Linked DNA regions of Homo sapiens. The protein of the gene in region 1 interacts with the protein of each later gene in a biochemical or structural test. Each region holds a gene or a part of one and is shown on either strand. Other genes may lie near its edges. The genes, in order: PDZRN3, ARHGEF12, MTMR1, NRXN3, LRP4, JAG1 and HTRA4.

Region 1 (4,244 bases):
AAAATGTGCAGAGATGGGAGTTGAGGGGACCAAGAGGTAGAGCTGGCTGCCAGAAATTCTTTACTGAAGAATTGCTGATGTCTTCACTCCCTATGCTCAGATGCTTTTGTCCTCTTTGTAGTTAAAACTTTAAAATTCTTAATGGTGAAGCAGTTTGGACCAGCCCTGCCTTGTAATTCAACCCAGCTCTAAGGAAGTGATTCTTGCAGAAGAACATAAGAGGAAACTGTTCCAAAGCCTAAGACTGAAGGTAGTCATAAGGACGGTGCTTGAAATTAAGTTGAAATTGGATGAGACACTCAACAAAAGTATTAATAGGATGTTTCTGTCATCAGAAAAAGGTGTAGAGAGAATGAAGGGAGACAAAGGGCATGGGGGAACAGGTAGAAAAAAAAACAAGAGCTTTTCCAGAGTCATAATATCTGCACAATAGTTCACATGGTCCTAAGCCAAACGAGATATTTTTGAAAACTAATATGAGAAGACGTTTCAGTACTTTCCTCGTTTAAAAAAGTCTGCTACTATATTTACACAACCTGAAAAAATCCATAAATGTCTAATTTCTTATTTCCACGAGCTTGATTTCAAATTTTCTCTCTCATTTTTGTCACTGACTCATCTGCTTTTCTGGTGAACAACCACAAGCAATGCTTCACCAAAAATGACACCAACAAACCTTTAAGGTGTTACAGCATCTTAACACTTCCACTTACTTATGGGGTGTGCTACGATCTAAATGTTTATGTGCCCTCAAAATTCATATGTTGAAATCCTAATCCCCAAAGTGATGGTATTAGCAGGTGGGGCCTTTGGGACGTGATTAGGGATTAGTGCCCTTATAAAGGGGCCCAAGAGAGAAACCCTCACCCTTTCTACTATGTGAGCACAACAACAGAAAGACAGCCATCTGTGAACCAGTAAGTGGGTCCTCACCAGACCCTGAATCTGCTAGCACCTTGATCTAGGGGTTCCTAGCCTCCAAAATTACGAGAAATAAATTTCTGTTGTTTATAAGCTATCCAATTTCTGGTATTTTTGTTACAGCAGCCTAAATGCACTAAGACAGAGTGGTTTCTGGTATTTCTGTTACAGCAGCCTAAATGGCCTAAGACAGAGTGGTTTTCAAATGTATACATCCAATTACCAACCAGAAGCATTTTCTTCCCTAAATAAAGAAAAAAGTGCTATAGTTTGGATGACTGTCCCCCCAAATCTCTGTTGATATCTAATTCCAACATTGGAGGTGGGGTCTAATGGGAGGTGTTTGGGTTATGGGGGTGGACACCTCATGAAGAGATTAATGCTGTCCCAGGGTGGTGGTGGGCAGAGAGTGAGCTCTGCTCTATTAGTTCTTGCAAGAGCTGGTTGTTAAAAGAGCCTGGAACTTCTCTCCTCTCTCTCTCCATTGCCTCCTTTCTCTCCATGTAATCTCTGCACATGCAGGCTAGTCTTTGCCTTCTGCCATGATCGGAAGCAGCCTGAGGCCCTCATCAGAAACTGAGCAGACGCCGGTGCCATGTTTCTTGTGCAACCTGCAGGACCATGAGCCAAACAAACCTCTTTCTTTACAAATCACCCAGCCTCAGGTATTTCTTCATGTCAACACAAATAGACTAAGATAGAAAGCAAGGCTACTCATCTAAAAAACCATAAGTGCACTTGCTTACATGAAGGTAGGAGGTTTTTCTGGCCAGTCTCTCCATAGCTTTGTTAATTTGGGTGGGAAAAACATAAACAACTCTGTAACCCATATGTTATTCATAAGCTTTAGCCCTCCACCTTTACATCTTAGCCCAAATGAACTTGAATATCCCTCTTTCACACATTTCCACCACTGCAAAACAGACAGAGGATAGAAATCCAGAGAATGGGTTACTCAGGGGCAGCAGGAGGCTTACAATGAAACCAAATTATTGAGTAACAATCTCTTTTCTTCTAGATAACAACTGCTTTAAATTCCTAAACTTTCTTCAGTGATTTATTTGAAAAAATGTTAAAATCCTACAGGTGTCCAGCACTTAATAGACAGTCAAGAAATGCTTGATAAGACTTACTGTGCCCTTATGTACATCATCTCATTTCATCTTAATAACAACCCTAACAACAGGCATATTATGATCCCATTTTAGAGGTGAGGCAATTAAGGCTTGAAGGTTAGAAGAGCCTCCCAGGGGCCCTCAACAACAGGGCAAAGAGAACACATGAACCCGAATATTGCTGATCCCAGGATATGGATACTAACCACACGCAATACACTAGCTCTATTCAGGGCACCTTGGAGTCAGCCTGTGGACCCAACGCCTGCATCTAACCTTCACCCACGATCTGATGGGACTTCATCCCTCACCTATCCAAACACAGCAAAGACACGGGGCACCTAAAAACAGCTTTTAGCAAAATACTAGGGGTGATCTCCTGCCCAGGACTCTTCTCTGCACACACACTGCTGATGCCAGGGGAAAAGCTCATCACTGCCCTTCCTGGGGATGGGGTGGCTGCAAGGCCTGCAACATACAAAGATTACGCGGTGCCTCTGCTCTTTAAATTCCCTGTAAATATATGGATGGAATGAGTGAGAAAGATGGCTGCTCAGGTCCATCTGGTAGTTATTTTCTTTACAAGAGTAATCATTATGTTATACCACTTCCCTTTCTTATTGTAACAGGCTTATTAGGACACTATTAGTCAAGGGGAGACAGAGGCTAACCCATGGCATAAAAGCTTGGGTGAGCAAAGAATAGTAAGACTTGTGCTTTCAAAGGCATATGTGGGTGTCTGATTGATCCCCTGGGTTAAAGCTGCTCAGTTTTACCTTTCTATCCAATGGTGCCTACCACAGGGCCTGGCACTAGGGGTATGAGAATGTGAGGAGCTAAACTGCAGAATACATTTGGAAGAACTTCACTTCATTCCTACTGTTAACCACTCTTAAAATTACCAGGATAAAAATTAAAGAGCTGTTCTCATATTCCATCCAGGACATCATCTCTTTTTTGTCTAAATCTATTTTTTTTTTTAACAGGGTCTCACTCTGTTGCCCAGGCTGGAGTGCACTGGCACGATCTGGTCTTGGCTCGCAGCAACCTCTGCCTCCAGAGTTCAAGCAATTCTCCTGCCTCAGCCTCCCCAGTAGCTGGGACTACAGGTGTGCACCAGCACACCTGGCTAATTTTTGTATTTTTAGCAGAGACTGGGTTTCACCATGTTGGCCAGACTGATCTCAAACTCCTGACCTCAAGTGATCTTTCCGGCTAGGCCTCCCAAACTGCTGAGATTACAGGCGTGAGCCACCATGCCCAGCCTAAATCTCTTTCACAGCCAGGATCTGTTTTGTTTTGTACTCCATGTGCTCTACACTGGACCTATGTAAATGGGAACATGGTATGGGATGAAAACATTTCATGGACCAGAAGCCAACAGGCAAACTAACATGAGCCAGTGGAGGACACTTGGCAAGTTATTTAACTTTCTGAGCTTCTGTTTTTTCATCTGTAAAATGGAAGGAAAGAGTCATGGGTAAGAGCACCGACCTTGCAGGGTCTTTCTGAGGATGAAATAAAATAATGCATGTACACCTCCAATCCAAACAGTACTTGGCATACATAATAATGGTGCTTTGAAAGCCTGTGTGAGACTTCAGAGAAGGGCACCGCCCCAGGAAAAAATTCTTTTCTTATTTTGGTAACAGTGTGAGCTCGGAGATGGGCCACACTGGGTTCAAATCCCAGCTCTACATTTAGAATCTAACTTCTAGCCTTAATCTTTCATAATCTGCTACTCCCATTAAAAAAAGAGGTCTATCTAATGAAGAACATGGAGAAGATAATGTATGCACATACAGAAAGCACCTTAAGTGTATGGCACCCAGTGGAACTCAATGAATATTATTTTCTTTTCTTTTAAGCTCCTTGGTCTACGGTCCAATGCATAATTGCCTTATAAATAGATTCTTACTCATCAAATATTTTTATAGCGAGGCAAGCACCATTTCTGAACACAGAAAGAGCCACTTACAGACAAATCTCAACAGAATTGCCAATTCAAATTGTCTGGTTATACTCATTTAATCCAGTGTAGCTGGGTAACATATTTGTAAAACAAATCCTAATTTTCCTTATAAATCACAGAAATGAAATAGAAGTGACAATCTGTAACTTTTTTTTAGCAGAAGTGCGCTGTTTTGTTAGATATACTATGGAATGGCCCTGTGCAGGAGCTTTTCAGAAACAAAATATACTTCATGG
Region 2 (4,244 bases), on another chromosome or scaffold:
TGTGGAGGTTGCAGTGTGCCAAGGTTGTACCACTGCACTCCAGCCTGGGTGACAGGGTGGGACCCTCGTCTCAAAAGAAAAAAAATAAATAAATCCAAATTACCAGATTAAATGCTATTACTCTTTTGCATTTATTTTGAACTGCACTTTTGCTAAGTTGTTAGTTAATAATATTCAGTGAGTAGTGGAGAAAAGAGGTCACAAATTTATTTTGCCACCATGAAACTAACAAGTTTTAAAAGGGACCCCGTTGTTAATAGAGTTAAAATATAACTTGCCAGTCAAATTTGATTTTTAATCAACACTACATCCGTCTCTTTGGTTTTTGATTTTTTTCTCACCAAATCAAAAAACATACCACCCTAAATGAAAGGCTTTTCATTGGGATCTATCAATGATTTGAACATAAAGAACCAAAGTAATAGCATAAAAATTTTCAAATGCAGAAAACTGTTCACAGAATCGAGACACCCTAATAACTTTGGGGTATAAACTCTTAGGTCTCTTTCTAAGCAGTAAATTTCATGTAATTTGCTTAAGAATATAAAAATAGCAAGACTCTATGCCACTTGTGTTATTGAGACAGCACCGAGTATCTTATGCAACTTCACAATGAATCTGGAAATTAGTATCCTTCAGTGGACATACTTGCCTGTTGCCACTTGTCGAACCAACACTGTACTCAACTTAATGACAGGGCTAAACGTGTGTTTGCTATCAGCTGTAGATGCCAGAATCTTACTATGACACCTTAAAACCAGTCTATCATCCTGCTTTTGTAACAATACAAGAATGTCTTCCAGCAGCAACGTGTATAAATCTAGAAATAAAAGTGCAGAAAAAAATGGTAAGTACAGAAATGGAGACGCGTTTGATTAACTTTATAATGATTCAACAGAGGAATTCTATTTCTGTTAAAGCTACAAAATTTTAAAAATTGACTTGTATATTATCTTTTAAAATTTCATTTTCAGTAATTCATTTTTATTTTATTTCACTGAAGTGTCAGTCTGTGACCAATAGGAAATAAAAAACAACAAGCTGGGTGTGGTGCTGTGCGCCTATAGTCCCGGCTACTAGGGAGGCTAAGGCAGGAGGATCCCTTAAGCCCAGGAGTTCGAGGCAGCAGTGCACCATGACTGCATCTGTGACTAGCCACTGTGCTCCAGCCTGGGCAACATAGAAAGACCTTGTTTCTGAAAAAACAAAAACGGTTCCTCATCACAGACAGTTTAAGATGTACTGGTCTAAAGAAAGCTTACAAAGCATACAAAGACTCACTAGACTATAAGAATGATGGAAATAGGACTAAATCAGTTCTCCACTACATTCCTAAATGAATATTTAACACATCTTACATATAATGAAATAACACAAGCAGATCTACAAATGTACAAATAACACGAGGTAGCACTGCAAACTGCTGAGAGAATGGTTCTCTCCTCTTCCCTTTGTCATAGGAAACTTTCCTATTCCTTCCCTTTTGCCACTCTCCCCAAAACTAAAAGACAATATCAGACCTACCAATAGTTTTATCTCTATTCACCTTCCAAACCAATGGCCCTTCATGAATCATCTTCCTTTTTGTTAAATCCAAATTCTGGCAAAATAAAGAAAATCATGCACAAATAATTTCCAAGCACTCAGTAACATGATTATCTATATAATACAGTCTCTTTTAAAGAAATTCTTAATATAAAATACACCATTTACATTCAACTATCATTATTGCTATTTGTCAGTTCTTGAAAATGGCACAAAAGCCATATTAAAGTAATCTGCATACAATTTTCTAAAAAGGAAAAGGTATCTTGCAGAAGAACATTCAGGAGTACTATCTTCAAACCTCACTCTAAACAGATGATAACAGATTATGAAGATCAAGTTACAAACATTCAGTCACTAGATTCTCAACGTATCCTTTAATTTTCCTATGAATAACTGGATGAGCATGGTACATATGCTTGTCTATAAGAAAGTGGCTTCTGAGTTCCAAGGCTCTAATTTCAAAGAAAGTTCTAAGAAATAGTACTCATGAAAAGTCCAGGTACTACTCAGACTTGGTCTAAATATTAACAACTTATTAGTAAGAGAATCATCTTTTAGTATTAGCAGCTCTAGAAAACTCTCATTCTTTGGAAGCTAAGGGGAATAAGCACATTTACGTGCTTGTTGACGAAGTATTAATATATGACATAAAAGTCTATTTTAACAGCCACCAAATAAATCTGCCAAAACCACCACCTAGTGAAATGGTACAAAAACACTTAAAATCCGAAAAAGTTAACACATAAGCCCACATACTAGAAGTGGCAATTAGTAAACATTTTACTATCGTTCCTGTAATGGTTCCAACTTTTATGCTTCTGAAGAGCCTCATGAGAAAATAGTATGCTATCTTGTGTTATTAAATGATCTGGAAAGTTACCAAACAGTCCTACCCTTATTTAAACTACAGAACACAGGCTGGGCATAGTGGCTCATGCCTGTAATCCCTGCACTGTGGGAGGCTGAGAAAGGAGCACTTGAGCCCAGGAAATCTGGACCAACCTGACAACACAGCGAGACCTTGTCTTTACAAAACACAGAATTAGCTGGGTATGGTGGCATATACCTATAGTCCTAGCTGCTAGGGAGGCTGAGGTGGGTGGACTGCCTGAGTCCAGGAGGCCAAGGCTTCAGTGAGCCAAGACTGCACCACTGCATTCCAGCCTGGGCAACAGAGCAAGACCCTGTCTGAAACAAACTACAGAACACAATAAAATTAAATTTTATAATAATTAGTGTCCCTTAGTCTCCTGCCAATTGCTGTCATGTAATATTACAGTTTTATGCAAGATATTCCTCTAATGAAAAACTAATTTCATACAGATCAAGCATTTAAAAGGCAGCAAAAAAAATCATAAATACAGATAATCTACGATACAAGAACTCCTTCAGGTGACGTATATTCCCACTGAGATGTTAATTACCTGCCAGGTCTTTAGCAAATTTTATTTTATTTTTTAAATTATGATTAGACCATCTCTCACCCTGAGCTCTTCAACATTTGGGTACTCTGACAACTTCAGGCTGGAGGTATCAAGGCGACGCTGATAATCTTCTAGGCGCTGAAAATTAGGCAGGGTGGAACCAAGGTTAGTGCTTTGGTCATTAATGACCTCTCTATTTCTGAATCAAACTTGGCATTTAAAATCTCCATTTTGGCCAGGCGTGGTGGCTCACACCTGTAATCTCAGCACTTTGGGAGGCTGAGGCAGGTGGATCACGAGGTTAGGAGATCAAGACCATCCTGGCTAACACAGTGAAACCCCGTCTCTACTAAAAATAAAAAAAAATTAGCCGGGCATGGTGGCGGGCGCCTGTGGTCCCAGCTACTTGGGAGGCTGAGGCAGGGGAATGGTGCAAACCTGGGAGGCGGAGCTTGCAGTGAGCCGAGATCACGCCACTGCACTCCAGCCTGGGCGACACAGCAAGACTCCATCTCAAAAAAAAAAAATCTCCATTTTACTGAGCTCTTTGCAATGCTAGACAGGACTGAAAACTCACTCTCTTCCCGTGGCTTTGGTGATAATATACTCTCCTAGTTTTCCTCCTGCCTCTTTGGCTTTTCTTTCTCAATCTTCTTTTCAAAGTCATTGGTCTCTTATTAGCTTATATTTATTTTCTGAATATGTAAATCATGCACACAGTACAAAATTCAGATGGCTATATAAGGCAAAAAATAAAAAGTCTCCCTCTAACCTTGTCCTATTGCCCCACCCCCCTCAATTTTCCCTAAAGAAGCAATCACTAATATCCATTTCTTGGGTAGCCTTTGAGAAAAATTCTATGCAAACAGATATGTATTTATTTATATATGTATATATAAGTATGCTTGTCTTTGTGCATGTTGTGTGTATATGTCCTTTTTTAAAACAAGATATGGTAGCATAATATATTCATATATGCATTCCTTTGGTATTCCTATATGTATTCCTCATTGAAATGGTAGAATACATTCATATACGTATTCCCCCACGTGTGTGTGTGTGTGGTGTATGACTTATATCTTGGGGACTGTTCCACATTAGCACATATAGAGAGTTATTTCATTTTTTTATAAATGACTACAGGATGTAAAACTCTCTGAATAAACTATAATTTATTTCATTACGCCTTACTGATGGGCATTTAAGTTACTTCAACTCTTCTGTAACAAACAATACTGTAATAAAGTGGACTTAAATATATGTCTTTGTACA
Region 3 (4,244 bases), on another chromosome or scaffold:
TAAAATCTGACACTCTGCCACCCCACCTCTCATTTTCCTCCAGTGGCCAAGTGACTCAGGATTACAACAGATGCAAACTCTGGGCTCAAACCATTACTCCCAGCTGTCTGCTACTACTTCTGTAATGATGTCCCTCCCACGCAGCTATGGCATCATGCTCAGTATCTAAGAAAGAAGCATTTTCTCTAGGATGATTCAGTGAAACCAGCAATGCCAACTGGTAATACAATAGCATGATAACTTGTTGTTGCTACTCCTTTGTCATTCTCTACTACTTTTTGAGGGTATGACTGAAGTTCCCCTTATACTTAGTTATAGGAAATCGTAAAAGAGGGAGTCATAGCAAACAGATTGTTTATATAATTAGGTATTTGTTGAGAATCAAAGGTATGTTCAGGTTTATAAGCTTATTTTTCTGCTTTCCATTTTTGTTCACTAGTTTCTTTTTTGTCTTAAATCTCTCCATATTAGATCTAACGCAATATATATTCCTATATAAATGACAATGTTTATTACTTACAGGGACTCTGCCTTTTGCTCGAAAAGCTGCCACTTTTGAAAGGTCATCATCTTTTACACTAGTTGGCACAACAATGATGGCAGGGTAGGTGTCACAGAACTCATAATTACTGTTTATTTTGGATATTTTCCAACTCTCATTTGGCAAGCCCTGTAAGGTGTTGGAGAAAGAAGAAGAGGGTGAAATGCATGACTTTACACTTTGAAAAAGTACTAAGCATGAAGTACATCCATTTCTTATTTGCAACTAAAATCCGTTTATAATTTATTGTTTATTGTAACTTAAAAGTCAATATATATATTTATTCGGTAAAACCCATTTCCTAGACATTTCTAAAAATCTAAAGAAGCATAAGAATATCCAAACCATACTAAAACATGAAAATTATACGCTAGAATCACATTTCTATATATTTCTTGTCCTATTTTCTATAAATAATGAGCTCTGTTATTTTTGAGAATATACTCAAAAGTCCTTTAGAAACACAGATACCTCTTACGAATGTCTAAAATAAGTAACGTAAAACATTATACCAAATATAAGGTAGAGACAACGTCATGAAACAAACGTCATGAAAATAAGATCTTAGTGGAATAATTTGAAGCTGACAATGCACTGAAGAGTTCCCAGACCCGGGAACACTGGATCAGACAGATGTAGTCACACCACATGCTTCGAATCTAACTGTAGTCAGTGGTTTGGATCCTTACTCATCAATTCTTTACCAGAACATCTAATAAAAACCATCTGGCAAATTTGGTTTTTAAACCCGTCCTTGTCCTTGAGTCCCACTCACCCTCTGGAAACAGGATGAACAAACATGACAAAGTCTAAGGTTTGGCACAGGGAGAAGAGAGAATCAAGGAAAGATGGAGAACCTATAAGCTAGCAGTTAAACCTGTGCATAACTTGTTCGAAAAAGTTTCTTCTCCACCACATCATTTCTAACCTTTTAGAAGAGAAAAAGATGCTCAACCTATTATTTTCAGTTTGATAAGCAATATACTTTACCTGTCTCTTATATTCAGATACTGGATCATAAACTTTCCAGCCATTAATTGGAAATTTTTCTTTATAGCTGAATGCAAATAGTGCCTGGACACAAAAACCACAAAACACATATGTTACTATTTCTTTTTATATCATATACCCAATATTAAAGCTTTTCATTCTAATATGAGCTGAGTGTATTAAGATTCCTATTTTAGTCTGTAAATTTTACAGCAACAAAGTAGCAGCTTTTCTTAAGCATTACCCAGAACTGACAAATTTCAAATATTCTAATATTAGTCACCAACAGAGGAAAAAAGAGAGGAAAAAAAAAAACCTCTGGAAAAAGGAATAATTAAACATAGGATATTTGGACCCCCACAAATGCATGCAGAAAAGGTTTACTCTGGTGTATTTACCTGTCCGTTAGAAAGAGGAAATGCATGTTTGTTGAGGTTTTCAAATATCCCTAGTTTACTCTGTTCTTCCTGTTTATAAGCAAGCCGCAAGTTCCTCATATCCTGTTAAACAATTAGCAAAACTCGGTTATTCAACATACATCAGGCACCTATAAGCCAGATACCGTGCCATAAATAAGGAAATTATTTTTTTTTAATTCATTTCTCCTTTTATACTTTATCCTGCTCCAACGGCACAGTCTCCACTCATTGCAACCTCCGCCTCCCTGGTTCAAGCAATTCTCCTGCCTCAGCCTCCCGAGTAGCTGGGATTACAGGCACCCACCACCACTACCGGCTAATTTTTGCATTTTTAGTAGAGACAAGGTTTCACTATGTTGGTCAGGCTGGTCTCAAACTCCTGACCTCACGTAATCCAACTGCCTCGGCCTTCCAAAGTGCTGGGATTACAGGCATGAGCCACTGCGCCTGGCCCCACTTATGTTTTCAAAGAAGGACTATACATACATTCTCATGTGCATAGGCTATCTGTGGAGGGTTACATTAGAAATCGGCCACAGTGGGTGCCTGAAATGAGTGGAACAGGGTGGCAGGGTGGTGGGTGGAAGGAGACTGATTTTTTACTATACACAGCTTTTGTATCTTTTGAATTGTATATCACCTGTTAAAAAATAAACCCCACACCTTGTAAAGCTCTTAGGCATGATCTGAGAAGGCTGGGAGCATTACCTTAGTAATCTAGGTTAGAGAACATTTAAAGCAGTTGTTAGCAAATGCTCACCCCAGCCATAAAAATATCTTAGTAAAAGAGCCCCAGGATGCCTGCCTAAGCAACATAATTTCCTGACATGCCCTCCCTCTAAGCTACATGGCTACACACATACACCTTGGTGGCTGACTGAGCTGACTTGCTATTTAAGATTGCTTACAAGCTAAGGAAAGAGCACATGCAAAGATTCTGGGATGTGTGTGTGTGTGTGTGTGTGTGTGTGGGTGGGTGTGTCAAGTATGAACCACCAAAGGAAAGCCCATGTGACTGGGATGGCCAGAATGAGAGGAGGGCAGTTCGAGACCAAGCTGCAGAGGAAAGTGGGTCAGGCAGAGCAGTCTTGTAAGGAGAGTTTTTCTTTTAGTCTAAGGATAATGGGAAGATACTCAAGCGTCATGAGAAAGGGGACGACATGTTTCAAAATTGCAGAACCGATCAAGTCACCCCTCTGCTTGCCATTGTTCCATATGGGGAACCCTGCCTGAGAAGGACAGTTGTCAGGGAGTGACTAAAGTGAGTTTAGTAAGCCAACAGATTCATGATCTGGAAGAGTAAAGGGTTCTTTGGAAAAAAAAAAAATGGTTTTGAACGCAGTCTAGGACCAACCAGAGGGAGCTATCTTCAGAGATTGAATCAAAATAAATAGATTGTAAGGAATCCTAACCCAAAATTTGGAAGGGGCGCTGATGATCCTGCAGGCAGGATCTCTTTTCTGGTACTTCAGGTAGGGTTTTTGGTAAACATTACCAAAGTCAAGTCACTGGGAATAAAATACATCAATTAGGAGTGGGTCCTACATGACTTCGTGATTAAAGTTATCACACACATTTCTACTTAAATTATTAGAAGAAGGGTACAAAATAAACAAATAAGCCCAGCTCAACATAAAAATTCCAAGATAGCCAAGAAACTTAATCTCATTTTTAATCACAGAATTTATGGGCCACTGCTGTCCCTTTAGGAAGTCTCTGACCATCCACATTGTTCTGAACGTAGTCTTAAAACAACAAACTGGGGAAATGTATTGGTCTCTGCTTTTCACTTGACTTCTCTGAGATGTGACAAACAATCACTTAGGTTATAGGTCCACGTTAATTAGAAATACAGTCAGCCCTTCCTATCCATGGGTTCCACATTGGAGGATTCGAACAACTGCAGATGGAAAATATTTTTTAAAAGGATGGTTGCATTTGTGCTGAACATGCACAGACATTTTTTCTTGTCATTATTCCCTAAACAATACAGTATAACAACTATTTACATAGTGTTTACACTGTATTAGTTATTATAAGCAATATACAGATGATTTAAAGTATATGGGAGAATGTTCTTAGGTTATATGCAAATACTACATCATTTGACATAAAGGACTTGGACATCCATGGATTTGGGTATCTGAGGCAGAGGTCCTGGAATCAATCCCCCACCGATACCAAGGGACAATTGGACTTCGATGGAAAAGGTTTACTTCAAAGGGTTACATAATAGTTTAAATTCGATATGAGATTTGAAGAGGTTGCTATCCCGAAAACATTTGAGTTACTAG
Region 4 (4,691 bases), on another chromosome or scaffold:
AAAAAAAAAAAGCAAGGAAAAAGGGAAAAAAGAGCCGCAGAGCCATCAAAATCAGAATTTTTTTCATGAAGATGGAAAGGGCTGGAGGAAGGGGGGGTGCGCCTAGGGTGGGGGGAGCAGTGTGTGGAAATAGAAGGCAAGATCATGGCAGAATTGGGGGAGGATGGAGGGGGAGATTGGTGGTGGGATGAAAAAATTTCACACACACACAGAGACACAAGCACACACAATGCCCAGACGCCAACCCGACCGCTCCACTGTTCATCCAAGACTGACAACCCGTCCCCCATCTCTCCGCTGCCTCTCCATGCCCCCAAAGCTGGTGCCGATGGATTTCTGTATCTCAGTTTTGCAGCAGTGGGCTAATTACGACCAAGCCCCCTCACCAAATTAACCCCTCCCTTCCCTCTCTCTTTTTTTTCTCTAAAAGGCCAATTGAAGAATAATGTGTTTTTATAGATAATGGATTTTTTTTCCAGGAGCGAGAGAAAGGGGGGTGCAGAATAGAAATTCTGCAAACCGGTGACTTCCAACCTCACCTCCGTCTCCCCCCACATCCCCGTTTGCTGTAGCATCTCATCTACCGTTCTCCCACCATTCTCTCATCCCCTACCACCCAAAAGAAAAGACCTTCCTACCATGCACATCGACAAACACACCAACCGCCACCCAATCTCAGTAGCCGATCTCAAAACCCCAAGCATCAGTCCACCTCAATACATCCTTTCCCTTATATAAGCAGCAAATCATCAACATAGTCAGGAGAAACGCAGCACTAAAATGAAATCAACAAAAACGGAGGCCAGAACGCCGTCAAAACCCCAATAATTAATAATAGGGAACTACCAGAGAAGCAAAGACGTAGCTGTCTCTCAAAATCTAGAATCCCTTTAATTTCTGCCCCCTCCTCTTCTCAAGAAGCAATTTTTTTTAAATTATTATTTCACTAGAAAGGGCCAGAAAGCTCCAGAAAAGGGCATTCGCACAGTCCGGTTGTTTTTAAAAAATAAACCCAGCCCTGTTGCTCACTTTAATAGCGAACTTCCAGTGTCCAGCCTTTTCCCCCCCTTCCAGAAGGAAGACTGACTCGCAGGATGAACCTCAGGCTGCAGAAAATGGGCCAAGAGCCCTTACTCCACTCCCCAACAACAACAAAAAATCAAACAATAGGAATATCTGCACAACCAGCACCCGTCTGAAATATCGTTTGCCCCATATGACTTAGGCAGATTAAGCCCGAAGATTAAAAAATAAATACCAGCCTTGCCTCCTCTCACTCCCCTCCATCCTTCCGCCACATACCCAGTAGCCCTTAGGTAAACTTGCCCATCATAACCAGCGGGACCATTTTAACTTGAAAGGCGATGCAGAAGCCCTTGAACGATGAAGGAAGGCTCTACCCAGAACGGCAAATTAATAAAGAGCCAGTTCTCCAGCCTCCCCAGACTAACCTCCAGGTGCCCCCAGATAGACTATCCTGGGTACCAAGTCACGCAGCGTGCTGGGAGTTCAAATTTCCACTGGAACCTTCATCACAAAGGCAAACGGTCATCTGACCCCCAAAATTACACCATCCTCCAGGTGTGACAAGGAGTGCCCCCTCTCCCTCCCAGGGCCATCCACAGGACCCAGCGGAGAGGAAGAAAGAAGAATGTTGGGGTGGCTTGTAGTGGTAAAAGAAAAACTATCTCCCCAAAGCGGGAACCGAAGGAAGCGGGGAGAAGACAGCTCTTGTCCTACCAGCTCTTTTATTTGCCCTGACTCTATCTTGCTCCATCCTAAGCTAGCTCTCAATGATCTCTGACCTTTGCATTAAAAAAAAAAGTATTAACAATAAAGATCAGAGAAGAGCAATCCTACTTTACCTAAACCCCAATAATGGTTAGCAAAAATATGATGTTCTCATTGCATGATGATATTTCTACATCCAAATTAAAAGAGGCAGACATTTAATGGAGGAAGGGAAAATTTTATTTTTTTTTAACAAGTAATCACAGGGTAAGTCACCTGCAAAGCAGCCGAGCCCTTAGGTTGGTATTACATCACTGGCCTAAGAAGGGATGGGGGGTGGGGGGACACATTTTTTTCCTTGTCATCAGGATGATGTTTCTAAAGCAGTTAAGTTTTGTGGTTAAAAAAGAGAGAGGGAAAGAGCTGAAACTCTGGGTACAGCACAATGCCTGGAAAAAACAATACATCGAACCAGGCTTTAAGGTCACTGAGAGCTTGCAAAACCCACAGTGCTTACACAGAGTGGAAGTTTTCAGGCAAGCCTGCTACTAAATCATTAATATAAACAAATGGAAGGCAGTGGAGGAAGATTCCCTTGTAACCGATCCAAACAGGAGCACACACCCGCGCACACACACACACACACACTCACACACACACTCCCTTTTCACCTTCTCCAAGTATGCCCACCTTCACAAGACAGGAGTCCAACCTGAATTTTTAGACTCTAGGACCACCTCCTCACACCCCCTCAAAAAAAAAAAAAAAAAGCACACACACACTCACATACACGTCAATTCCTCAACAGCTAGGGAAATCCCTGTCTCAATTCAATTTTGTTTTCTTGTGATCCTCAGAGTGTCCTTTCTGTTTCTCATTTTAACCAGCCCAAATAAATAAATGAATAAATGAGGGGGGAAGTGACTACAAAATGTCAAAAAAAAAGTATCTGCCCAAAATGAAGTGATGAGCACACATCATTTCAGACTAACAATTCAAGCAAATAGGAGAAAGACTCAAAAAAAAAAAAAAAAAAAGAAGAAGAAGATAAAAATCTAAAACATTCTCTGACTTTTCCAACATCTGGAGGAAAAGGACCCAACTTCCAGGAGAAACTGAAGGAAAAGAAAGGCAGTTGAAAAGCCATTTCCACAGTCAGCCAAGGCTCATGGATACAGTATTCAAAAAAGAAAATCTAGGTTGGTTGCTCCCAACTGAAAACTTCTACCCTCTCAGGAGCAACCTCTTCCCAGAACGGACAAGAACCTTGAGTTGTTTCATGCCCTGACTGCCTTCCTTTCCCCGCAAACCTTACCTTTCCAGTTGAACAGAAGATTTGGGATCTGTCTGTATGTCTGTTTGATGTTTAATCAACTGAGTTTGCTGGGTATGTTTCCTCTTTGGGTAGGTTCAAATTCCAGAATCTTTCTCTCTCCTTTTCCTTTCTCTCTGGGAGGGAGTGGCAGGGTAGAAGGGAGGGGTTGTTGGAGGTGCGAAAAGCAGGTCCTTGGTGGCTGGAGATGCCGAGGCTGAGAGAGGGGAGGACAGGTTGCCTCTCCCTCTCTGTGAGTTGCATGCAAGAGGCGATGTGTAGGGCTGAGCGCTGAGCCTGAGACTGCTGGAGGAGCCCAGGAATTTCACGCACTCCAGAGCCGGCCCCTCCCTCTCCCACACAGACCCCAGCATTTAAAGAGACAGACAGGCCGCCTGGCTCAGGGCTTCACCTCCTCCCTGACTGTTTTGCAAACAGCTGAGAAGATATCATGAGGGAGGGGCAGTTTGCAGCCCCCACAACTAAGAGGCAGTGTCTGAGCTCAGTTCTCCCCTTACTCCAGCCTGAGAGGAGAGTTCTTCCCTAGAATCAGAGTAGGAATTAATATAAAGACAAAATTCTTATTTACAGCTTCAGTAACCAAACCACTTCCCCACTGCTGAGGATGTGTGTGTCTCCTTGCAGACTGAGGGACTCTAACCTACAAGTGTGCCTCAGTTTCCCTGAGTAGTTGCTCTTCCTTGCAAAATCAGGGCAATCTTTGAGCATCTAGTGGAAGTCAGGGCTGTAACTAGGACACAAATCTATTCCTTCAACAAGCACTTTGAATGCCTGCTTAGGATGAAGCATACTGCAAGGGGCTGGGGACATAGAAATGAAAGTGACAAATGGGGCTTCCTCTCTCAGAGCCCCTAGCAGCAAAGACAGACCCAGGCACAGCCCATCCTATCCTAAGGGGCTGCCAGCTAAGGGTCAGAGGCCCGAATCAAGTGTTTTGGTGACTCAGGAAGATGGCTCTCTTTTGTGGCTTGCACTCTGAGCTCTGAGCCTAGACTGCACCCCTAAACCCTTGAAAATCCCTTGCCAGCCTTGACAAACTAGTTCATGTCTGTGGAAACGTTTCCCCAGTCAAACCTAAACAAGAGATGACAGTCGGTGGCACCCAATACAAAGGTTTTGCTCAGCATCAGGCCCTGGCACCTTATGTGAAAATGCAGCCCCAAACTCCTTTCTTCTCCAGCTCCCTTTTTAAGGGCTGCACTGGCATGTCCTCCCTTGGACCAGCACCAATCCACTAATAGCTGTTGAGCACTTACCATATGCCACTACGTGGGTCATCTCATTCAGTCCAGTGAGGTTTGTGCTATTTGACAGTTGAGATCCATTCCACAGTCTTAAAAGTTGAAGCTTTAGAGAGGGTGCCCAAGGTTACACAGCTGGAAGCTGCTAAGAATGAATTTGAACTCAAGTCTATCCCACTCCAGAGCCTGCCTGTTAGCCACAGTACTCTATTGCCTCCAGCCAAGGATGGTAGTTCTTATATTTCTGCCCTTTACTGGATGTTCTTGCAGCATCCTAGCACTTTCCTGACCCAGCAAACTTTAATAGCACATGTACCCGGCATCATGCTCATGAGAAACAAAATGAATCTATCAAGGTCTGAACCCCAAGGACTCCACTAAGCATT
Region 5 (4,078 bases), on another chromosome or scaffold:
AATGAATGAATGAATGAATGAATGAATGGGGATATTATCCTATAGATGGTGTGTGGTTTAGAAAATCAACTATTGAGACTTGACATGAAATTCTACATCGGGCGTTGAGATTAACATGATTCCCAGTTTTCACTGAGGGATATCACATCCAGAGAACCTGAGAAGGGATCCCTAGCTCCTTGTTCTAGCCTTGAGAAGTAGTGGATGAGCTATGAAAAGACAGCTTTTAAAAATAAATGAAATCCTAGTGATAATTTGATCCACTCTCAGACTAACTATGAAAGTTGACTAAGATCAAACAGAGCTAGTGGCAGATCTGGGACTGGAATTAGCCCTCCATGTCCCCAGCTCCAGTACTTTTCTTACTACATGAGATAGTCTTGCCAGTGACCATCACTGCAAGGCAAAGTAAAGTTCTGTAACAAAGACCTAGAACAGAAATAGAAGATACATGGTATACATGCCATGACATTTCCTTCCAGTGCACAGAAGAGATGTCACTAGCCATATGACATTCTTCCCATTGGGTGCGAATAGGCCCTCAGGCAGCCACTACCAACCAGTCAGAGTCAGCACTCAAGAGGAAACCCATCTACCATTCCTCTTCCAGAGGAAATAAAGGTTTCATCAGTCAAGGAACTCTGGCCTCGACCTGTCTTCTCCAGATGAGCTGAAAACTCCAGCAGGAACCTCACACTCTTTATTGCTCTTCACTGTGCCCACATCCACAAAGGACTTAAAAGTGATGTCTGTAAGCAGGTTTTCCACAGCATGGGTCTGCCAGACAGAGCAGGTGCAGGATTAGTCATGACTCCAAGCCAGGCAAGGTGATTAAGAAAAGCTAAATTTATATTAAATTATCATAAAGTCCTAAAATACTGAACATAGTGGTTAAATAACTCCAGAAAGTCCAATCTCTCCAGTGAGTAACGTTAAAACCATTACACATGAGCATGGGAGAATCGCTTCCATTAGTTTAGGACAGAGAGATTTTGCTTTTTACAGAGTAAATCAGTGCTCAAATAGATACTTCCTCAAATATGTCCTTTCTACATTCTGAACAGCCCAAGTGCAATAAGATCCTTCCCCCTTTCCAATCAAGAAAATGCCACTTTTCTACTTGCTCTTCCTCCCCAGACGTGAGTCTAAGGACCCAAAGTGCTCACTCCTTTACTGCTTGTTAAGTGTAATGTGGGGAGGCTCAGAACTGGGGCTGACGCTACTGAGAGCAAGGCTAAGGGCCTGGTATCTCTCTCTAGCAGTCTTAGAACTGACTAGAAAAGAATTGATCTTGTCCTTTTTCACTTTGGTAGCTGATTTCTCAATACCAGTAACCACAGGAGAAGTTTCAACTCAGGAAACTTCCCCTAGAAATTCTCCCCTCCATTCCCAGCCCCTGTTGTTCTCTCCTGCCACTTCTAATTCCTGGGGGAGAAGAGGTCTGGGTCTGCCATGGGCTAGGAGGGCCTCATCAGTGGTGCTCTCTACCTTCCTACTCCTTACCCACCTCTTTGTATTTTTATTTATTCAGCCCTCCCACCACAGGACTTTGGAGATTGCTGGTGCCACAAGGCTTGGTCAGAAAAAGCAAATTAGGCAAAAAAACAAACAAAAAAACCCCACGAAGAACAGCTAGGGAGACGTTTTAGGGCAAAAATAAGTCTCAATTTCCCTGATACCAGGCTGAGACACGTGCCCTTTGTGTGAATGAGCATGAACCAAGTGATGGCATCCCACATGGAAACTAAGCCCCTTAGCTGAGGGGACAGCTGGAAGAGGAACATCACCACCCCGTAGCCACAGGCTTGCTGTCCACTAACTTAGATCCCTGAGCACTTGAGAAAGAACATAGGAAGTTCAACAGGAAGTTTGACCCTCATGGATACTTCTCTTTAGGCCCTGGGTTTCCCAAGTCTCCAACCTGATCGTTCTTTCTGACCATTTATGACAACTTCTGGTTTTTCTTTGAAAGCTTGTTTCTAGGTCTCTTCCCCAGAATCCCAGGACATGAGGGAGAGAGGGGTCAGGAGGTATACCATATTTGGTCTAGGCAGAGCTTCTTAGACTTTTCAGAGACTCAGCCCCCAAGGCCTAACATTCACTCAAGCCACTGGCTCACAACCTGGTTAATTTGAGCAAAGACTTAGGAAAGGTACTGGCCAGTGGTGGCACCAGGAGGGAATTCCTATTAGCCAGTAGCCTTGTGATAGGGGACCCAGTTATCTGAATGTAGAAACAGCTCCAGACATTCTAGGAGGAGGAAGAACAGCCTGAGCCACCCCCATCTCACCAGTATCTGCTGCTGAAAAGGCAGTGTCTCTTAGGGCAAGAATAATGTCCACTGCCAGCAATGGACCAGACACCCAGATCCAACTACCCCCCAAAGCTTTTTCATGTTACTAACACACTTGAGGCTGGAGGTTTCCCAGATGCCCATACCTGCTGGGCTGATTCTTCCTTCTTCTCTCAGCCTCTATCCTTCATCCCTGTCTTTACCCACACCCCCATGTCCCAGCCCCTGATGGGCAAGTTCTCTCAGAGAAGCAGTCATGCTGGCTGTGATGGGGCAGAGCGCAGTCCTGGGTCATCAGCTGCATCAGCACTGAGAAGCAGGCACTGAGGGTACTGGGGAAAGGGGAGGTGGAGCTCTACGCTGGTGAGGAATCACGAATAAGCAGTTTCAGGGGGCCCAGGATGGAGTACAAGATGTGAGGTTCATGGTAAAATCCAGGTCTAAATTCTCGTGATGTGCCATCATTTCTTGTGCACAGGTAGTTATGGACTCACGTGGTAAACAGCTCCGGTGAAGGCTTAGGAACAGTTATGGGGTGGGAGGAGGAGGAGGACAAGCACACAGAAGCGGGGCCTGCGGTGTAAGCGAGCACAAGGACTAGACGTCCATAAAGGAGAAGGAACAGGCAGGCAGGGAAGAGAATGTGGGCATTTAGACCTGGCTCTCTGAGGAGAGCTTGCGTTCATGTTTCCAGCCCGTGTCTGGCAGAGAGCCTCGTCTTTCTGGAGTGGCTGCAGTATGGACGCTGCTACACTCAGACTGCTCTTCCTGTAACAGCTGCTCCGTCTCTGTGTCATCCAGGGAGCCAGAGCTGGCCTGGATGGACACCGTGTCTGTCTTCATGCATACATGATCCCGGAGGAGGCCCCCCCGTGAGCTTCGCAGTTGCTTGAGGTCATCCCACTCAGCATCATCCCCAGACAGGAGGCAGATTCCCTCTACGATCTTGATCTTCTCCTTGGTGTAGTTATGGTCAGGCCCTCCCTAGGGTGGAGAGTGGGCAGATATGGTCAGTCAGTTGGCCTTCTACAAAGGATCCCATGGTAAACTGAAAAAGGAAGTGGATGGGGTAAGAGTAGGAGTGAAGCGCACAAAAATCCCACAAACAAATGGGGAAATGTGATTAAGACAAGTGTATGAGGCCTAGCCTAAAAGGGGAGAGGCAGCTGTGATAATTATTACCATTACCATACAGGAGGAGGGAAAACCATGGCTTCCGGTCCTGCAGCAGCCACTCACTGGCTTTGTCACCTTAGGCAAATTATTTCACATTTCTAAAACTCAGTCTCTTAAGACTCTGCAGTGTGAGGAGAGTAACAGTATCCACACCTCACAACCAACTGCTGTCACCTTAAATGAGATGATACATGGAATGCAGTTATCAGGGAGCTTGACACAAGATGCACTATAACATGTTAGCTATGTTACATTGTTACTGTGGTTTATTAATGGGACATCATGCTGATATAAATCATCAAAAGCAATTGGCAAGAGCAATTAAATGTACATTTATTCAGGATTTTAAGCTACTTCGGGTGCTAGTTTGTATCTCTTTTTTCTAATTTTGTTAAGGAGAAAACTTGGGAGGTAAGACAGGGGACTCTAGAAAATCCTCTTATCTGGCCGGGCGTGGTGGCTTACACCTGTAATCCCAGCACTTTGGGAGGCCCAGGCGGGCAGATCACTTGAGTTCAGGAGTTCGAGACTAGCCTGGCCAACATGGTGAAACCCCATCTCTACTAAAAATACAAAAATCAGCTGGGTTTGGTGGCGGGTGCCTGTAAT
Region 6 (4,090 bases), on another chromosome or scaffold:
CCTCCAATCACTGGCTCCCAAAGACCACCACCATCCTGAGTTCTAACAGTGGAGAACCATTTTGGGAGGCAGCAATTTTTAATTTGATTCCTTTGACAGTGCAATTTACAGCAAGCCTGGCAAAGTTTCCTGGAAGGGGTCAGACAGTAAACATCTTAGGCTTTGTGGGGTATATAGTCTCTGTCACAACTATCCAACTCTTGTGGTATCATGAAAGTAGCCATAGACAATACATAAATGAATGTGTGGCTGTGTGCCAAGAAAACTGTATTTATAAAAACAGACAGTGGGCTGGATACGGCCCCTGGGCCACAGTTTGCCAACTGTTTATTTAGAAACATGAAACAGATACAACCTGCCCCCATCTAGTGCTGAAGACTAGTTAATCCCAGACTTGGATTTCAAGCACCAGTAAAATTTCAGACAATTTGGGTACAAGAATCAAACCATAACTACTCTAGCACCTTTTTTGTTCTGTAAGAGAAAGGGCTTGTAAAAAAGTAGAGAAAAGGCTCAAAATAATATGCTTTAAGCCTCTTGAAAAACTGCGTTGCCTGCCCCTATTTTCCTGTTTTAGTCATTTCTCCAGGGCCTGATCAGACCCAGCACAGACAAGCCTCTGGAAGCCACAGTCGTCCTCCCTTCCGTTTGTATTAGCTTTATCCTATACCAGTGTAGCTGTGGTTAACATCTGCTTGCCCATAATTTCATGTTAGTCATGGGGAAATGCACATACTTTCTTCAGGACCCCACTGTAGATTAATCATCAGATTCTGTGACTGGCACTCTCTCCCCAAGAACAAGGAGGGCTACACCACCCAGGGAACTACCAGCAGGTACCTGGGAGGATCCAGCCTGGCATATCTTAATCCCAGCTGGAGGAGAGAGATCCTTTGCTCTATGAGAGCTACTTAAAGGGAATGGTGGCTTTGTTTTTAAAGATGAAAGTCTTGGGGTGAGGCATGGAATGAAGCGGTAAAGCCATTGGGAAAACCAGACGGAGACAGTCCTTACTTATTCTGCAGTCGGGCCCAGCAAAACCCGGGGCACATTCGCACCGGTACCAGTTGTCTCCATCCACACAGGTGCCGCTGTTGTAACTAAGAAAGCAAAGACCACCTTGGTTACCAACCTCCCAGTCCATTACTCTGGCTGCCAATCACTCACATGTCACCACACCAGTTACAGTCAGTGGCTCTCACCCCATGGCCGTTGCCTGGGGAATTTTAAAAGAATACTGATGCCTGGGTCCCACCCCCAGAAAGTCTAATTTCACAGGTCTTGGTTGCAGCCCAGGCAGCGGGATTTTTAAAAGCTCCCAGGTGATTCTGGTGTGCAGCCAAGGTTGAAAAATCACTGCTCTAAATGAGGACACAACCTGGCTAATTAAAGTGTGGTCCATGGGGCAGCAGGATCGCTTCACCTGGGAGCTTGTTAGAAAAGCAGTCTGAGGCCCCACCCCAGACCTCCTGACTCAGAACTTGCATTTTAAACACAATCCCTGGGTGATTCTCACACACACACACACACACACACACACACACACACACACGATAGTGGATGAGTGCTGGCTTAAAAGGATGTCACACTTACCAGGGATGAGGGCTGCAGTCATTGGTATCTGCAAAGAAAAGACAACTTAATAGTGAGGACTTCAACAGGGAAAGCGGTCTTAGCCCTAAGTAAAACCACCACTTATTTTCCTAATACCCAAATGATAAAGTCGTAGTTAACACCAGCAAAATACCTTTGCTAAATTGGAACCAGGCCCGCACCACACTTAGTTTCATTTGCTGTGGGACACATGTACACAGGAAGAGGCCCTGGTAGGGGATAGGGGTGGGGGTGAGAATGGAAGGAGACAGGCTGCTGGTCAGACCCAGAGCTGGGAACTGAGACGCCATCTGTCTCCACTTATCTTATTGGCGACTTTCTCATGCCCAGGTCAGGGCTGTATCCCATCAAGTCATTAATGCAGACCCAGGTGATACAAAAGCAGACATCAAACAGCTCTGCTTCTGGTTTCCATTGCAAGTCCCCAAGGGTGTCAGGATCTGCTCCGACAGCCCTGGGAGAGTTCAAGGGGGGAGGACACTCACTCTGAGCACAGATGGGCCCCTCCCAGCCTTCCTTGCAGACGCACGTAAAGGACTCGCCGTTGACCACACATGTGCCCCCATTATGGCAGGGGTTGGGCAGGCAGCTACTGTTTCGGGCTATAAAAGAAGAGCAGACACGACCACCCTCCCTGAGTATCCAGAAACAGTCTGGAGGGGCAAGAACCAGGCCCAGAGAAATATCATAAGCTCCAGGGGCCAACCAGCAGACACGCCCAGGTGGCCATGCCCACTGCAGATCCCACGTGGGGCATAAAGTTACCTATGTTACAGGTTGTTCCTTCCCAGCCGCCAGGACACATGCACTTAAAAGCATCCCCCTCATCATAGCAGGTGCCACCGTTGTTGCACGTGGCCTCATCACACTGACTGTCACCTGGAGGAAAATATTTCAGTGTGAGTCCCAGTGGCCCCCTCCCACAGAAGACAGAGGGAAGGGTCCCAGAGATAGCATCCAAGGCCAACTACCACTTACGTGAGTGGCAGGTCTTTCCTTTCCACCCATTTTTACAGTCACAGTAGAAGTCATTGACCAGGTCGCGACACGTGCCCCCATTGTGGCAGGGGTTCTGGCTGCAGTCATTAATATCTAGAATCAAAGGGGAGACAATCGGCTGAAGACGAGATCCAGGACCATTCACGACAGGCGAGAGCCAAGCCTTTCCTACTGCTTACATCCAACATCCTATTCTGAGAACAGCCACAGTCGTAGTACTTTAACACAATCAGGCTTTTCCAGGAATAAAGGAGCTCCCAACTGGGTTACTTTGAATGCCACAAGTTAGGCAAGATGTGGGGTGGGCCTCTGGAAGTCCCATGGAAATGAAAGTAGAAATATGACTTTCCTTGCAAGCAGGAATATTTATTACACAGTCTAATTCTATAGGTCCTCAGCAGAAGCTCCTCCCCATAAGCTATCATCAGGACTCATAAATGCAAATGAGACACAAGTGATACTGTCCCAGTGCAGAAATCACTGCGGTCTTGCTTCCAGAGATTTCCAGTACAAAGAAAGTTTTCCCACGTTGAAGTGGGATCCCTCCAACATGACCCATACATCCCAGAGCTCCCCAAAGAGTGGCAGACTCACTGGTTTCACAGTAGGCCCCCTCCCAGCCGTCACTACAGATGCACTTGTAGGAGTTGACACCATCGATGCAAGTGCCACCGTTTCTACAAGGGTTGCTCTCACAGTCATTAATATCTATGAAACAAAGTAAAGCAAAAAAAGAACTGAAGGACTTGTGAAGCCATAGACAAGCACTGTTCAGCAGTTTTCATGGCTCCCTCCTGACACAATGCACCTGGCACCTCCACCTGCTACCCTCCATCAGGGCTGTTTCTCAAATTAGACAGGCGGCTTATCAAGCAGAAGCTTCCAGAGAGTGCCTTACCCACTTAATGCCCTCACATGGGCATTTAGTCACCGGTACTAGGTGAAAGTGGGGAAGAAACTCCTACAGAAAAGAGGAATCACCCAACCTAGCAACATTCCAGAATGTTCCAACATAGATATGGAGGCTCCGAGGCAGAGTGATCTGGTAAATTGAACACGACCTCAGTCTTAGATCCCAGATGTAAGGATAAGTCTCAACCAGTCTCCCCAGCCTTACTGTTTCTGATTAAAACAATTTCAACACTGCTGGGCATGGTGGCTCACACCTGTAATCCCAGCACTTTGGGAGGCCAAGTTGGGGGTCGGGGGGTGGATCATCTGAGGCTGGGAGTTCGAGACCAGCCTGACCAACATGGGGAAACCCCATCTCTACTAAAAATACAAAATTAGCTGGGCGTGGTGGGCGTGGTGCGCATGCCTGTAATCCCAGCTACTCAGGAAGGCTGAGGCAGGCAGGAGAATCGCTTGAACCTGGGAGGCCGAGGTTGTGGTGAGCCGAGATCGTGCCACTGCACTCTAGCCTGGGCAACAACAGCGAAATTCGGTCTCAAAAAAAAAAAAAAAACTTTCAACACCA
Region 7 (3,212 bases), on another chromosome or scaffold:
AATCTACCCTTTCAACATTAATAGTTATTACTTAATAACTATTAAGTGATTAACACCTATTAGGTATTAGTAACTATTAATTATTCATTAATAGTTTTTTTTTCTTTTGAGATGGAGTCTCACTCGTTGCCCAGGCTGCAGTGCAGTGGTGCAATCTTGGCTCACTGCAACCTCCACCTCTCAGGTTCAAGCAATTCTCCTGCCTCAGCCTCCCGAGTAGCTGGGATTACAGGCACCCGCCACCACGCTTGGTTAATTGTTGTATTTTTAGTAGAGACAGGGTTTCACCATGTTGGCCAGGCTGGTCTCGAACTCCTGACCTCAAGTGATCCACCCACCTCGGCCTCCCACAGTACTGGGATTACAGGCATGAGCCACCACGCCTGGCCATATTTTAGGTATTTTAAAACACATTTTTCGGCTGGGCATGTTGGCTCAGCCCTGTAATCCTAGCACTTTGGGAGGCTGAGGTGGGAGGATTGCTTGAGCCTGAGAGTTCGAGACCAGCCTGGGGAACACGGTGAAACCCTGTCTCTACAAAAAATAAAAATTAGGCCAGGTGCCGTGACTCACGCCTGTAATCCCAGTACTTTGGGAGGCCAAAGTGGGCAGATCACTTGAGGTCAGGATTTTGAGACCAGCCTGGCAAACTTGGTGAAACACCATCCCTACTTAAAAAATATAAAAATTAGCTGGGTGTGGTGTCGCATGCCTGTAATCCCAGCTACTTGGGAGGCTGAGGTCAGAGAATCGCTTGAACCTGGGCAGCAGAGGTTGCAGTGAGCTGGGATCACGCCCCTGTACTCCAGCCTGGGCAAGAAAGCGAGACCCCATTTAAAAAAACAAAAAACAAAAAACAAAAATTAGCCAGGTGTGGTGGTTTGCACCTGTGGTCCCAGTTACTTGGGGAGGTCGAGATGGGAGGATCACCTGAGTCTGGGCTGTAATGAGCTGTGCTCATGCCACTGCACTCCAGCCTGTGCAACAGAGTGAGACCCTGTCTCAAACAAACAAACAAGCAAAAAAAAACTACACCAAAACCTCACAAAACCTACATTTTTCTTTGAACTCTGAATGACAATATCAGAGGCCAGCGCTAAGACCTGTGTAATAAAGCAAAGGCTAGGACAGCTTCCAAAAGAAGGTTCTCCAGCTGATTTCACTGTTGTTTCAAAACATTTAATACTAAGTACTGAGAGAGGTGGCTTGTCCTACAAATATCATTCTCCTGGGCTTTTCTGTTGTACTTCTTTTTTTTTTTTTTTTTTGAGACGGAGTCTCGCTCTGTCACCAGGCTGGAGTGCAGTGATGCGATCTCGGCTCACTGCAACCTCTGCCTCCTGGGTTCAAGTGATTCTCCTGCCTCAGCCTCCCGAGGAGCTGGCACTACAGGCGTGTGCCACCACGCGCAGCTAATTTTTGTATTTTTAGTAGAGATGGGTTTTCACCATGTTGGCCAGGATGGTATCCATCTCTTGACCTTGTGATCCGCCTGCCTCGGGCTCCCAAAGTGCTGGGATTACAGGCGTGAGCCACCGCCCGCGGTCTGTACTTCTTTATTATCCCTTTCTCATTGTTTTTATTTTTCAAGAGCTCAGTAATCTGTTTAGATTATGGCACCACTTTCACTGGGGCTTTCCCCCTAGTGAAATCAGAGGGCACTGTTCAGCACAGCAGTCATAGGTCTCATGTTACTAAATTTGGCTTGTCCCTGGTTTCTCTGGACTTTTCTCATTCCTGCTCTGCTCCACTCTTCCCCCATTTCCTTAAGTTCTGGTTCAAGACCAAAGCTATTTCTTTCGGCTAAGTCCTTGCTACTCAGAATGTGGTCTGTAGACCAGCGTCATTAGCTCAGCTGGGGCTTGTTGGAAAGGCAGAATCCCAGGTCCCACCTTTGATCCACTGAATCGGAATCTGTGTGTTTAACAAGATCCCCAGGTGATTCATGTGTATGTTAAAATGTGAAAATTAGTGCTGGAAGTTGCTGATAAACAGAAATCAGGACTGGGCATGGTGGCTCATGCCATGATGTGGGAGGATCATTTGAAACCAGGAGTTTGAGACCAGCCTGAGCAACATAGTTTCTAAAGACAAATAAATAAAATAAACAAAATCAGCTGGGTGTGGTGGCAGGTGCCTGTAGGGAGGCTGAGGCAGGAGGATCATGTGAGCCCAGGAGTTTGAGGCTGCAGTGAGCCATGACTGCACCACTGTATTCCAGCCTGGGTAAGAGAGTGAGAACCTGTCTCAAACAAATCTATTCTTTCTGGCTTTCACTGACTTATACCTAATATAATGATAATTACACCACTATCTGGCACTTACAAAACTTTTACTATATCTCAGGCACTATTTGAAGTGTTTTATTTTTATTATTATTATTTTTTTGAGACTGAGTTTCGCTCTTGTTGCCCCAGCTGGAATGCAATGGCATGATCTCAGCTCACTGCAACCTCCGCCTCCTGGGTTCAAGCGATTCTTCTGCCTCAGTCTCCCAAGTAGCTGGGATTACACACCTAGCTAATTATTGTACTTTTAATAGAGACGAGGTTTCACTATGTTGGGCAGGCTGGTCTCGAACTCCTGACCTCAGGTGATCCACACGCCTGTGGCTCCCAAAGTGCTGGGATTACAGTGTGAGCCACTGCTCCTGGCCTATTTGAAGTGTTTTATACACCTGTTTGTGCTCCCAACATTTTATGATATAGGTATTATTTTATAGAGGAAGCAGCTGTGGTACAAAGAGGTTCATTAACTTGTAGAACGCAGTAAATCAGAGAGCAGAGAGCAGGGATGTGGGCCCTGGCTGAACCCTTCTATTATCCTGCTTTGGTGGCTGCTTTTCTGTTTCTGACAGGCAGAGTGATTTAGTGGCAAGAAGATGGGTTCCCAAGTCTGAAAGACCCAGGATGAAATCCCTCTCACAAGTTGCATGACACAGAAAAAGGTCATTTGTCCTGTCTGAGCCATAGTTCCTCATATTTGGTGCATAGGTTATTAGTAATAATTTGCAGGTTTCTTTTTCTCTTTTCTGACTCACAGGACTAGTATGAATTAAGTTCTCTATAAGTTCTTTCTTTGTACTCACTGGTCCTAAGTCATCCTCCTAAACTGTCTTTGTTCTAAGGTTATTTCTTGATTTTAGTTTTATACTTAAGCGTCTCTTCATATCCTCTTGCGTTAAGCTTCTTCTTTTTAAACTCCACATATCT

What was found.
Region 2: the proteins of PDZRN3 (region 1) and ARHGEF12 interact in a test that uses a peptide from one of them, tested with the Homo sapiens proteins (one large-scale study listed by IntAct).
Region 3: the proteins of PDZRN3 (region 1) and MTMR1 interact in a test that uses a peptide from one of them, tested with the Homo sapiens proteins (one large-scale study listed by IntAct).
Region 4: the proteins of PDZRN3 (region 1) and NRXN3 interact in a test that uses a peptide from one of them, tested with the Homo sapiens proteins (one large-scale study listed by IntAct).
Region 5: the proteins of PDZRN3 (region 1) and LRP4 interact in a test that uses a peptide from one of them, tested with the Homo sapiens proteins (one large-scale study listed by IntAct).
Region 6: the proteins of PDZRN3 (region 1) and JAG1 interact in a test that uses a peptide from one of them, tested with the Homo sapiens proteins (one large-scale study listed by IntAct).
Region 7: the proteins of PDZRN3 (region 1) and HTRA4 interact in a test that uses a peptide from one of them, tested with the Homo sapiens proteins (one large-scale study listed by IntAct).

The regions. Positions count from the first base shown.
Region 1 is NC_000003.12:73,614,704-73,618,947, forward strand, and holds part of PDZRN3 (E3 ubiquitin-protein ligase PDZRN3), read right to left. Parts: intron 1-4,244. UniProt on the Homo sapiens protein: E3 ubiquitin-protein ligase. Plays an important role in regulating the surface level of MUSK on myotubes. Mediates the ubiquitination of MUSK, promoting its endocytosis and lysosomal degradation. Might contribute to terminal myogenic differentiation.
Region 2 is NC_000011.10:120,471,916-120,476,159, reverse strand, and holds part of ARHGEF12 (rho guanine nucleotide exchange factor 12), read right to left. Parts: intron 3,111-4,244; coding exon 3,033-3,110; intron 1,601-3,032; coding exon 1,525-1,600; intron 821-1,524; coding exon 653-820; intron 1-652. UniProt on the Homo sapiens protein: May play a role in the regulation of RhoA GTPase by guanine nucleotide-binding alpha-12 (GNA12) and alpha-13 (GNA13). Acts as guanine nucleotide exchange factor (GEF) for RhoA GTPase and may act as GTPase-activating protein (GAP) for GNA12 and GNA13.
Region 3 is NC_000023.11:150,727,896-150,732,139, reverse strand, and holds part of MTMR1 (phosphatidylinositol-3-phosphate phosphatase MTMR1), read right to left. Parts: intron 2,032-4,244; coding exon 1,930-2,031; intron 1,616-1,929; coding exon 1,532-1,615; intron 671-1,531; coding exon 521-670; intron 1-520. UniProt on the Homo sapiens protein: Lipid phosphatase that specifically dephosphorylates the D-3 position of phosphatidylinositol 3-phosphate, generating phosphatidylinositol. Could also dephosphorylate phosphatidylinositol 3,5-bisphosphate to produce phosphatidylinositol 5-phosphate.
Region 4 is NC_000014.9:78,169,030-78,173,720, reverse strand, and holds the start of NRXN3 (neurexin 3), read right to left. Parts: upstream 3,349-4,691; 5' UTR 3,047-3,348; intron 1-3,046. UniProt on the Homo sapiens protein: Neuronal cell surface protein that may be involved in cell recognition and cell adhesion. May mediate intracellular signaling. Functions as part of a trans-synaptic complex by binding to cerebellins and postsynaptic GRID1.
Region 5 is NC_000011.10:46,856,039-46,860,116, forward strand, and holds the end of LRP4 (low-density lipoprotein receptor-related protein 4 precursor), read right to left. Parts: intron 3,278-4,078; coding exon 2,945-3,277; 3' UTR 679-2,944; downstream 1-678. UniProt on the Homo sapiens protein: Mediates SOST-dependent inhibition of bone formation. Functions as a specific facilitator of SOST-mediated inhibition of Wnt signaling.
Region 6 is NC_000020.11:10,642,764-10,646,853, forward strand, and holds part of JAG1 (protein jagged-1 precursor), read right to left. Parts: intron 3,322-4,090; coding exon 3,208-3,321; intron 2,707-3,207; coding exon 2,593-2,706; intron 2,494-2,592; coding exon 2,380-2,493; intron 2,217-2,379; coding exon 2,100-2,216; intron 1,622-2,099; coding exon 1,594-1,621; intron 1,101-1,593; coding exon 1,015-1,100; intron 1-1,014. UniProt on the Homo sapiens protein: Ligand for multiple Notch receptors and involved in the mediation of Notch signaling. May be involved in cell-fate decisions during hematopoiesis. Seems to be involved in early and late stages of mammalian cardiovascular development.
Region 7 is NC_000008.11:38,983,912-38,987,123, forward strand, and holds part of HTRA4 (serine protease HTRA4 precursor), read left to right. Parts: intron 1-3,212. UniProt on the Homo sapiens protein: Serine protease.